Linked DNA regions of Homo sapiens: region 2 is linked to region 1. Evidence: fine-mapped expression QTL. A gene starts in region 1. The other region holds a variant in brackets. All regions are shown on one strand. Distances are between the middles of the regions.

Region 1 (5,375 bases):
GAGAACACATTAAGACGGCTTGACCTAAGTTTAGCAAGTGTGCATCCTTTCTATTAATAACCTGCCTAACATAGGCTGTAGTGAAGATGTCCCACACTGGAGGAAATCCCTTAATCCTCTAAGCCCCTCGCTGTGGAGGGCACAGCTTCCCCGGGACAGGGTCAGGGGGCAGGGGGAGGGGGGAGAACCCTGGTTTGGGATGCAAGTATCTCCAGCTGCAAGTCCTAGGCCTCCCGTTGGTGACACTAGAGTAGTGTCTCAACCAGAGGTCACAGAGCACTGGGTCCCTCCTGCACCAGAGACCTGCTGTGGCTTTCCCTGAAGCTCCAGGGAGAAGCCAGATGTGAAATTGAACTGTATGAATATCCTCTTGCAGATGGCCGGCTTCCAAATGTCCCAGCAATTGCAGCCACAGCTGATACTTGGAGTACCCACTATAGCCAGCCACTCTCCTAAGGGGCAGTATCTGTACCAGCTGGCTTAATCCCTAGACAATCCTATGACAATCACTATTGTCATTCCCATTTTACAGAAATAACCACCACACTGAGAGGTGAAGACATTTCCCCAAGGTGGCACAGTTTGTAAGTCACATAGCAGGAACTTGAACTCGGGCAGTCTGACTCCAGAATCCCAATATTGGGTGCAATATAAAATAAAAACTCACATTCACTCACCATTTACCAGATATAGGTGATGAGCCGAGCACTGTAATTCATTTTTTCACATCATTCTCATGGCTACCCTGTGATAAGGGTATTTGATAGTGACCAGAGAAGTTGGCAGACTCTCCCAGGTCAAAGTGGAATGGTGGAACAAAGTGAGAGGAATTGGGTCTAGAACCCAGTTCTGCCCCCAGAGGCTATAAAGAGAGCCCAATCCCTGGTCCCTGCTGTGTAAGAATTCTGGGGAGGACAGAGACCCGCAGCCATGACTTATGCCTCCCCCAGCACTAACACCCAGCCCTCGCTCTGCCCATAGAAGGCACTCAGCAAATGGCTGTTGGGTTGATTTAGCAGGAATAGGAGGTGCAGGAACAAGGGGCTAGGGCTAAGCTGAGTGTCCTTAAGAAGACCTTGACCTCTCTGGGCCTCATTTTTTTCTCAGGCTCTGGGGCACTGTGCTGTGGGGGTTAAGAGGATGGACTCTCCTGTCAGAGCCGGAACTGGTCACCAGTTTTACCATTAATCCACCATGACAGGCCACGTGGTGCAGTGGTTAGGAATGCAGACTGGAGTCAGAATGCTGGGGCTCCTTCCCAGCTTCTCCTCTCCATAGCTGTGTGACCTTGGGGAACTCACCTCACCTCTCTGGGCTTCCCCATCTACAAATGGGATATTAATGCCTACCTTCTATGCTTACCTACATCATAGCCAGTGTTAGCGACTGTGATTCTCCACAGAACGACTCAGAGCAAACTTTGAGAAGTTAATTCAGGGCCGGGCGCGGAGGCTCACGCCTGTAATCCCAAGCCGAGGCAGCCGGATCACGAGGTCAGGAGATCAAGACATCCTGGCCAACATGGTGAAACCCACTCTCTACTAAAAATACAAAAATTAGCTGGGCGTGGTGGTGTATGCCTGTAATCCCAGCTACTTGGGAGGCTGAGGCAGGAGAATTGCTTGAACCAGGGAGCTGGAGGTTGCAGTGAGCGGGATCACGCCACTGCACTCCAGCCTGGCGACAGAGTGATCATCTCAAAAAAAAGAAAAAAAAAAGAAAAGATAATTCAGGTCACGGCCCCGCTCCAGCTTAAAACCCTTCTCCAGCTTGCCGTGGCATTTGCAATAAAATCTGAACTTCTCACCACGGCTTACAAAGCCCTGCACACCTCTCTGCCATCCCTTTGACCTCAGTGCCCTGCCCGCTGTGCTCTGGCCATCCTGGCCTGGGCCACACAAACTCATTCCTGCCTGAGGGCCTTTGCACTGTTGCTGCCACCTGGAAGCTCTTTCTCCAGATCTCAGCAAGACCCGCTTCTGAGGAAGTTCTCAGCTCCAAAACGTCCTACTCCAGAAAACCCACCCTGACCACCTACCCAAGGAACCCACGCCCTTGGCCTTCACGCCACCCCATTTTATGGGTTCCACAACACCTTATCTCTCTCTGAAGTTATTCATAAACGTGTTTACCCAGCTGCTCAATCAGAATGCCACCTCCATGAGAGAGAGGTTTATTGTCTATTTTGTTCATTGCTGAAGCTCTAACCCCTATATCAATGTCTGGCACGTAGTAGGTGCTCACTCAAGAATCAACGACTGATCCTTCGAGGCTTCTGAATGCAGAGAGAAAAATAGAGCCCTAGTCCCGAGTGGCAACAAAGCCATTCCCCACGCGTCCCACCCCAATGCTGTGTTAGAATCTCCTTCTCTGTCCCCTCTCTGCAGAATCACGTCCAGAGGAGGGGGTTCGTCTGTTTTGTTCGCAGTTTCGTTCGCGACAGCGTCCCCAGGCCCACAACAGCGCCTGGGGCACAACCGCGCTCAGCGAATCGATGAACTGCTTTGCTTCTTTCGGAGCCTCCATTTCTTCATCTGCAGACCAGGAACAGCTGCACTTGCCTGGGGCTGTCGGATCAGGGCGCCCGGGAGAGTGCCTGGGCCCGAGTGGGCGCTGCAGCAAGTGAGGGGCCACTTTTCCGGGGCAGAAAGGAAGATGGAAGGAAGCGCGACCGAGCCCCGTCCCAGCCCCCGCCGCAGGCCTGCAGTCTCGGGCTGGCCACCCGAGAGGCGGTATCCGGCCGGGGCGGCCCTGGGGGAGCCAGGGGGCGCGCACTCTTAGGGGAGCGTGGGGGCGGTGTCTACACCCTGGGAAGGGGTCGGGCTTCCAGCAGGCAGCGCCCGATCGGGACTTACCCATGGCGAGCGGGACTCGGCGGCGTGCTGGGGGCGCTGAGGGGCCGGGCGCGCATCCCCCGCCGGAGTCCCCAACGCCGCTGCCGCCGGACAAACTTTCCGGCCCGCCCCCGCCTCTGTCCCTCCTGCCCTGCCCTCCCGCGCGCAGCGCCGCCAACGCCACGTCGGCCAGCCAGGCCCCGAGGCCTGGAGGCGGGACGGAGGGGAGCCCAGGACCGCCCCCGGCCGCCCCAGGCCTGGCAAGGACCCCCTCCCTCGCCCACTGTCCTCCCGGGGGCCCCCACCCGCCATCTCCCGGGTCCCCTTCGTTGGTAGTCCTCCCCTGGGGGGGACACACCAGCAAGCCATCCTCCCTGGTAGAAGACCCCACACGCACTGTCTTCCCCTGGCCTCTTTGCAGGGAAGAGGTGCCCCAATCACTGGTCCACACTTGTCTGGCCTCCCCAGCGTGCGCACACACACAACACACACAACACACACATCTACACCGAGTGAGACACTCGCGCATACCCACTGGAGCCGCTCACTCTCTCATGGATTCATCCCTCATTCACTCCACGCTTGGGTTTGGACACCACCACATACCAGGCACTACGCTAGGCTTGGGATGGGCCGAAGAACAAAACAGAACAGGTCTTTTGTTTACCTTCTAGGAGGGGAAGAGTTTACATTCTAGGAGGGGAAGACGAAAAAGAAGTAACTAAAGGATCCTGAGAAATATCAGCTAGTGATAAAGACTAGGCAGAAAGTTAAACTACGGTGGTGGGTTAGGCAGACACAGGTGGCTGCTTTAGCTTGCTGATCTGAGAAGAGGATATCTGAGCAGAGATCCGGCATTCCCCGCAGGGGGAACAGCAAAGGCAAAGGCCCCGGGGTGGGAAGGAGCTTATGGGGTACAAAAAACGCAGAAATGAAGCCAGAGTGTCTGGAGCAGAGGAGAAGACAGGGAGAGAGGAGGGAGATGGGAGCTAAGGGAGGGGCTTTGGTGGGCCAGGGTCAGGAATGTAGATTTCAACCCCATCAGCAGGACAGATAACTGGGGAGTTCTAACTGGTTAAGGGCCAGAATACTCAGCCTTCCCACCTGGGAGGCTGTTGCAAGGTGAGAAGTTGGTTTGGGCTCATGTCACTGTGGTGAGGTTGGAGAAAAGTAGGCAGATCACATATATATGCTCCGTAAGAACTTACAGACTGGAAGAGGGGCAGCTTGTGGCTGGGAAAGGAGATCCAGAGTTCTGTCTTGGCTGTGTGACATTTGAGGTGCTCAGCAGGCATCCACGTGGAAATAGGTGGGCAGTTGGCTATGAGCCTGGGATTCAGGAAAGGGGTAGGCTGGGGACACTGCCACTAATGCTCACTCAGGCAAAAATGCACGTACAAGCCCAGCACTCACATGGGCGCAGCCTTATCCAGCCTCTCAATACGTGTTCACAGATAGGCACCTTTGCATGTGCACCAGTGGCTGTACCCTCACCAGTCAAAGTCACAGCGACCCCTACCGTACAGGTGGATACACAGGCATTCTTCCATGCTGAAGGCACAAGCAGGTATCTCAGCAAAGATGACAGCATCCATAAGACCTCTGAACCAGGGGATCCTTGCACAGTTTCAAAAATAATAATAGCTGGGGCAGTTTGAAAACATGGCTCCAGAATTCGTTGTTCCTTCCCTTGAAATAAAAGTGGGCTTGTGACTGGTTTGATCAGTAGCCTGCAGAGTGACACTGTGTAACTTCTGAGGCTGGGTCACTGGAATACTGGTGCCTGGATCCCTGAGCCTTCATATAAAAAGTCTGATTACACTGAGACCCTCCTGGTATTCGTGGCCTAGTGGCATCCTCTTCTCTTCTAGATGTCACTAGAAGTATCACTTAGCAACGTCTAATGAATAGAAGACGGCAAATATGGTGGATGTCATTTTCGGATTAGGTTATAAATGATTTCTGTGTTGTTCAGTTTCGAGATCTCTCACTTGTTTGCTCTGATGAAGCAATTGAGCTGCCATGTTTTGAGCTTCCCAATGGAGAGGCCCACATGGAGCGAAGCTATTGAATCACATAGCTAATGCCTCCAGGCAATAACCAGTGAGGGACTAAAGCCCTTAAATCAACAGCCCCTAAGGAGCTAAATCTGGCCAACAAGCTTGTGGTGAGCTTGGACGTGAATCTTCCCTCAGCCTAGCCTGGAGGTGACTCTAGTCCTGGCTGACACCTTGATTTCAACCTTGCAAGATTCTGAGCTCTTGCTCAGAGCTAGAATTTAGCTATGCTAAATTCTTTATCCTAGAAGACATGAGATAATAAATGTTTGTTTCTTTAAGCCACTAAATTTGGGGAATAATTTGTTATACAGTGATAAATAACGAATACACATTTCATTATTGTTCATTATCTTGATTAGAAAAAGGAGATGGATCATCTCCAGGAGAAAGTAGAGATTAGGTTATATCTACATGGACACTAGGAGGCTTATCACCCTTGGCCTTGAATCTCTCCTCTGACCCTTGAACAGTTAACCATCAG
Region 2 (5,375 bases), 30 kb after region 1:
TTGTGGCCAGTCCATGGGGCCAAGAGAGGTAGTTCCAGAGTAGAGTTGCTTTAAAGCTGGCATAGTGAGTGCTCCAAACAAGCTGTGTTCTTATTGTTGGATGAGCTGAGCTGACCACGCCCACACCACGTGCTACCTTAGGGGTTGGGAACATCTACATTAGCGAAGGCATGCAGGGCATAATCTCTGATTTAACTGCAAGAATCCACCATATTCCTGACCCTGGTTCCAATAAAACTTTATTTACAAATCAGACAGTCGGCCCGTGGGCGATAGTTTGCCAATTTGATTTTTAAAACCATCCCATTAAGATATTTTTTGGATTATTGAGTTTTTGGATGCCTCCTTAAATTTGTGCCTCACTTGCTTCACCCTAGTCCTAACCCAGCTGTCACTGACTGCCAGAGCCCTGATGGAGGAGCCCATGTTCTTACAAGGGTCTGCACCTGCTGTGGTTTGAATGTGTTCCCCGTATTTCATGTGTTGGAAACTGAATGCCCAACTTAGCAGTATTGAAAGATGGGGCCTTTAAGAGGTGATTGGATCCTAAGGCCTCTGCCCTCATGAATTGATTAATCCACGTGTGGACTAATAGATTAATGGGTTATTATGAGAGCAGGACTGGTGGCTTTATAAGAGGAAGAGAGACCTGAGCTAGCACACCCAGCCCCCTTGTCACATGATGCCATGTGCCGCCTCAGGTCTCTGTAGAGTCCCCACCTTCAAGAAGGCTGTGCCCCCACCAGATGTGCCCCCTCGACCTTGTATTCCTCCATAACAGTAAGAAATAAACTCCTTTTCTTTATAAATTACCCAGTTTTAAGTATTCTGTTAAAAGCAATAGAAAACAAATGAATGCAGCCTGAACCTCTTGGGGAACTAGGAGTCTTCCCTTGCGTCCTTTAATTCTAGGCACCGCAATTTCAATGGACTGTGCACTTTTCTGCCACCAGGGGTCGTAAGTTACTGTCATTCTTGGTGCGAACAGGTAAACCTCCCTTCACTTTCTCTCTTCTCTTCCTCCTCCCTCCTCCCTCCTTCCCCTCTTTCTTCCTCCCTTTCTTTTCTCCCCTTCTCCTTCCTCTACTTCCATCTTTTCTTCCCAAGTCCATGCCCCTCTCTCCCTCCCTCCTTTCCTTGAACGTGTTCATTTATTCACTCAACGCCACCTTAGCTGAGCACCTAAGTGTAGCAGGCACTGTGCTAATTATGCACCATGTAATGAGGGAGACGGACGTGAGGATGTCTAGTTCCTTCCAGTCTTAATGTTTTCATCCATTCTCTCTTCACTCACTCCTTCACTGGGTACTTAGTGAGCACATGGGCTGCGTCTGGCTCTTCTGAAGAAGCTGCAGGGATGACAAGGTCCAGCCGCGGCCTGGGAGGCCCTTGTCCTGGCCCCTTCCGTTCTTCCTTACTCAGCAGCCCAGGGGACCCTTTTAAAGCCAGAACATGCCACTTCTCTATTCACAAATGTGCTGGCTTCCCAGCCCATGTCTCCTTGTTTACCAGGTGCATGGCCTAGGATCCCCTCCTTGTACCTCTCTGAGCCTCAGTGTCCTCATCTGTAAAATGGACTCACAGTGGTGCTGCATGGTGGAGTTGCTGTGAGTATTGTCACTGGTCAGGATCCCCAGGAAGCAGACTCAGATACAGTTGAGCTGCCCTTGGGATCAACATCCACAGCATGGAGGACACAGGAGATGGCAGAGGACACAGGAGAGGGCAGAGTACACAGGAGCGGGCAGAGGGAGAACTGGAGCTGAGACCCAGCAGCAGCTTCAGTCAATTCTGCGGGAGCTCTGCAGTTGAAATGGCTCTTCAGAGATGTCACAAGATGGCCTGAGATGGCCAGGACTTTGCAGTCTCACATTATGCAGTCGTTGGGGGTGTCACGCCTGGAAGGGACACGAGCTCTGGCAAGGCCACTCTCTGCCTACTGTGAGTTGATCCCTGGAGGAGCTGACCACAGGAGCTGACTGCTGACCACTCTCCCTGCCTCTGGGGCAATAGGTGCTTCCTTAAGGGATCTGGGTCGCACATCCATGTCCACCACAAGCATCCATATAAGGAGGTACGTGGAGCAGTTGGAGCACTACCACAGTGCATGGCACATGGTGACAATGAGCAATATCATTATCGTGATGTCATTTAAGTGGCTACTATTTTTAGAGAACAGCAAACAGGTGATTATAATACAGCTCCATTTGTTCCCCTTATAAGCTAAGGGTAGACAAGACGCACTTTCCCACCTTGCCAGGCTGCCATTCCAAAGCTTCTGAATCAAAGGTCTGAGACTGGCCTGAGAATCTGCATTGCTAACAACTTCCCAGGTGATGCTGAGGCTGCTGTTCTGAAAACTCCTACCTGAAGGAAAATCAAAGTATGTCATCAGAAAAATAGGAAATGGATGCTGAGAGGGCAAGAAACAAAATACCATCTGCCATACCCATTTTACAGATGGGGGAGTAGAGGCTCAGAGGTGCTAAGCAACTTTCCCAGAGTCATCAGCCTGTAAATGGTAGAAATTGTGCCAGGCATTATTGCCTACCAAAAGTCACCCTCTTTTTTTTTTTTTTTGAGACAGAGTCTCACTCTGTCACTCAGGCTGGAGTGTAGTAGTGTGATTTCGGCTCATCACAACCTCCACCTCCCAGGTTCAAGCAATTCTCCCACCTCAGCCTCCCCAGTAGCTGGGATCACAGGTGCCCACCACCACGCCCAGCTAATTTTTGAATTTTTAGTGAAGACGGGGATATCACCATATTGGCCAAGCTGGTCTCAAAGTCCCGCCTCAAATGATCCACCTGCCTTGGCCTCCCAAAATGCTGGGATTACAGGCGTGAGCCCATCCCCCACCCCCTTTTTTTTTTTGAGA[C/T]GGAGTCTCGCTCTGTCGCCCAGGCTAGAGTGCAGTGGCTTGATCTTGGCTCACTGCAAGCTTCACCTCCTGGGTTCACGCCATTCTCCTGCCTCAGCCTTTCAAGTAGCTGGGACTACAGGCGCCCGCCACCACGCCCGGCGAATTTTTGTATTTTTTAGTAGAGACGGGGTTTCACCGTGTTAGCCAGGATGGTCTCAATTTTTGTATTTGTTAGTAGAGACAGGATTTTGACATGTTGGCCAGGCTAGTCTCGAACTCCTGACCTCAAGTGATCTGCCTGCCTCGGCCTCCCAAAGTGCTGGGATTATAGGCATGAGCCATGGCACCCGGCCTACCCTTCTTATTCCTTTTGGACAGAATCCCAATTAGTCTAGATATTTTTAGGCGAAGATAGCTTCATCTCAGGAAAGGTCAGATCGGTTCCTGATTAGGAATGGGCATGTGTATTAGGCCTTTTGCATTGCTGTAAAGAAACACCTGAGGCTGGGTAATTTATAGGGAAAAGAGGCTTAATTGGCTTACAGTTCTGCAGGCTGTACAAGCATGGCTCCAGCATCTGCTTCTGGTGAGGGCCTCAGGAAGCTTCCGATCATGGTGGAAGGCAAAGGGGGAGCAGGCAGTGTCCCATGGTGAAAGCAGGAACAAGAGAGAGAAGGGGAGGAGCCGGGCTCCTTTAAACAACTGGCTGTCTTGTGAACTAACAGAGCCAGGGCTCACTCAGAGATTACCACAGAGAGGGCACCAAGCCATTCACGAGGGATCTGCCGCCATGATCCAGTACCTCCCACCAGCCCCACCTCCTACACTGGAGGTCACATTTCAACCTGAGATTTGGAGGGGACAAACCTCCAAACCGTGTCAGCATGTGACCCTTTTCTGGCCAATAAGATACAAGAGCAAATCTGGGAAGATTGCTTCTGTGGAAGATTTTGCTTCTCCTAGAAGGTGAGAAGATGTAAGAATTCTCTCCCTGCTCTGACACCAGCACATCCCCATCAACAATGTCTGCTTTTCAATGCAATGGCAATAACCGGAGGTTCAGCAGCAATCTGGAGGCCATGAGGCCACCCCTGATGGTAAAGAGTCAATGAGAGGAAGATGTTGAGGTAGAGGGATGGGCAGAGTGTGAGTCTGTTCTTAGTGACCTCAGACCTCACTTTCTGGACTTATTATATGCACAGGTAAACGTCTCCAAAGCTGAAGCTACCATAAATCAGATTTTCCATCACTTGAAGCCAAAAGCATTCCTAACCAACACAGATAGAGACCCCAGGCCGCCAAAGCCATACTTGTTCATAGCATCTTGCTGCCTTTTACTGTCAGGTTAGAGCCTCTCTATTTAGATCAAAGTGAAGGAGACAGACTAACTCCAGCCCCTTCTTACCAAGGCCTGGGAGGTGAGAACCCGGCACTGAGACCCAGCCTATTCAAGGCCTGGCCAAAGTCTGCCACCAACTCCTTCTGTGAGTTTGGGGAAAATTCTAGACTTCCCTGGGCCTCAGTTTCTCCACCTGTAAAGTGGAAGATTTGATCTAGGTCCAGTGGGTGGCTGTAACTGTAGGCAGTTTTCTTGGGTTCACATAATGTTTGCTTTTTAGTTGCCAATGTTAAACAATTTCATATGCCAATGTTAAACAATTTCAAACATACATATGGATTGTTTCATATGTAAAAATCTAGACATCTGGCTTCTCTGGAAACATCGTCAGGAGATCTTGCCACACGGGACCCTGTTCTAACACCTCTTCTTTTAGAGGGGCCTGTGCTTTCCAATTTGCCCCAGTCTCCACTGCTCCCTATTGCTCTTTGGCTCTGAGTCACTGTTTGTCATCACGCTGGTCCCGTTGTTCTTCTTACAGAGGTAAGAGGAGAGTGAGATATGTCTTACTCCTCTTGTTACTTGTCCCTGAGAGCATTGAATTTGCAACCTTTAGATAAGATGGCATGTATCTTCCCCAGGGCCTCACGGGCATCCCAAAACTCAACAGGTCCCAAAACAAACCCCTGGTTTCACCCATAGTCTCTGCCCCCATCACAAGTTTCCCATCTTAGTAAATGGCAGCCCCAGGAATCCAGAACTTCACCCCAAACCTGGGGGCTCTCTTTGACTCCTGTCTTTCACCAGCTCCCCTCGCCCCCATTCGATCCAGCAAAAGATCCTGCCAGCTTTACTTTCAAAATATAATTAAAAGGTTGGGAGCGTGGCTGCCCTTGGGGGAGGGGCAGTGATTTGGAGGGGGCTTCTGGGGACTTCTAGGGGGATGGACAAGTTCTATTTCTTGAGCTTGATGCTGGTTATGTGGGTGGATTGGGTTTGTAAAACTTCATGAAACTGCAGGCATGTTTATATGTGTACTTTTCAGTATTTATGTTGTACTTCAATAAAAAGCTGTGAGGCCAGGTGGTGGCTTGTGCTTGTAATGCCAGCACTTTGGAATGCCGAGGTGGGCGGATCACCTGAGGTCAGGAGTTCAAGTCCAGTCTGGCCAACATG

The links. PIP is the estimated chance that this variant, and not a neighbour inherited with it, causes the effect.
Region 2: its variant is fine-mapped to the expression of SLC2A10 in blood mononuclear cells (TOPMed, PIP 0.96).

Annotation. Positions count from the first base shown.
Region 1 is chr20:46,707,221-46,712,595 of GRCh38, reverse strand. It overlaps SLC2A10 (solute carrier family 2 member 10), which reads right to left and starts at 2,947. Exons shown (of 5, transcript NM_030777.4): 1 at 2,856-2,947. The coding sequence starts at 2,859.
Region 2 is chr20:46,677,113-46,682,487 of GRCh38, reverse strand. It overlaps a transcript of SLC13A3 not described here. Among named protein-coding and RNA genes, the nearest start is that of TP53RK-DT, 9.5 kb to the left of the region's middle. The variant C/T (reference allele first, on the strand shown) is at 2,879.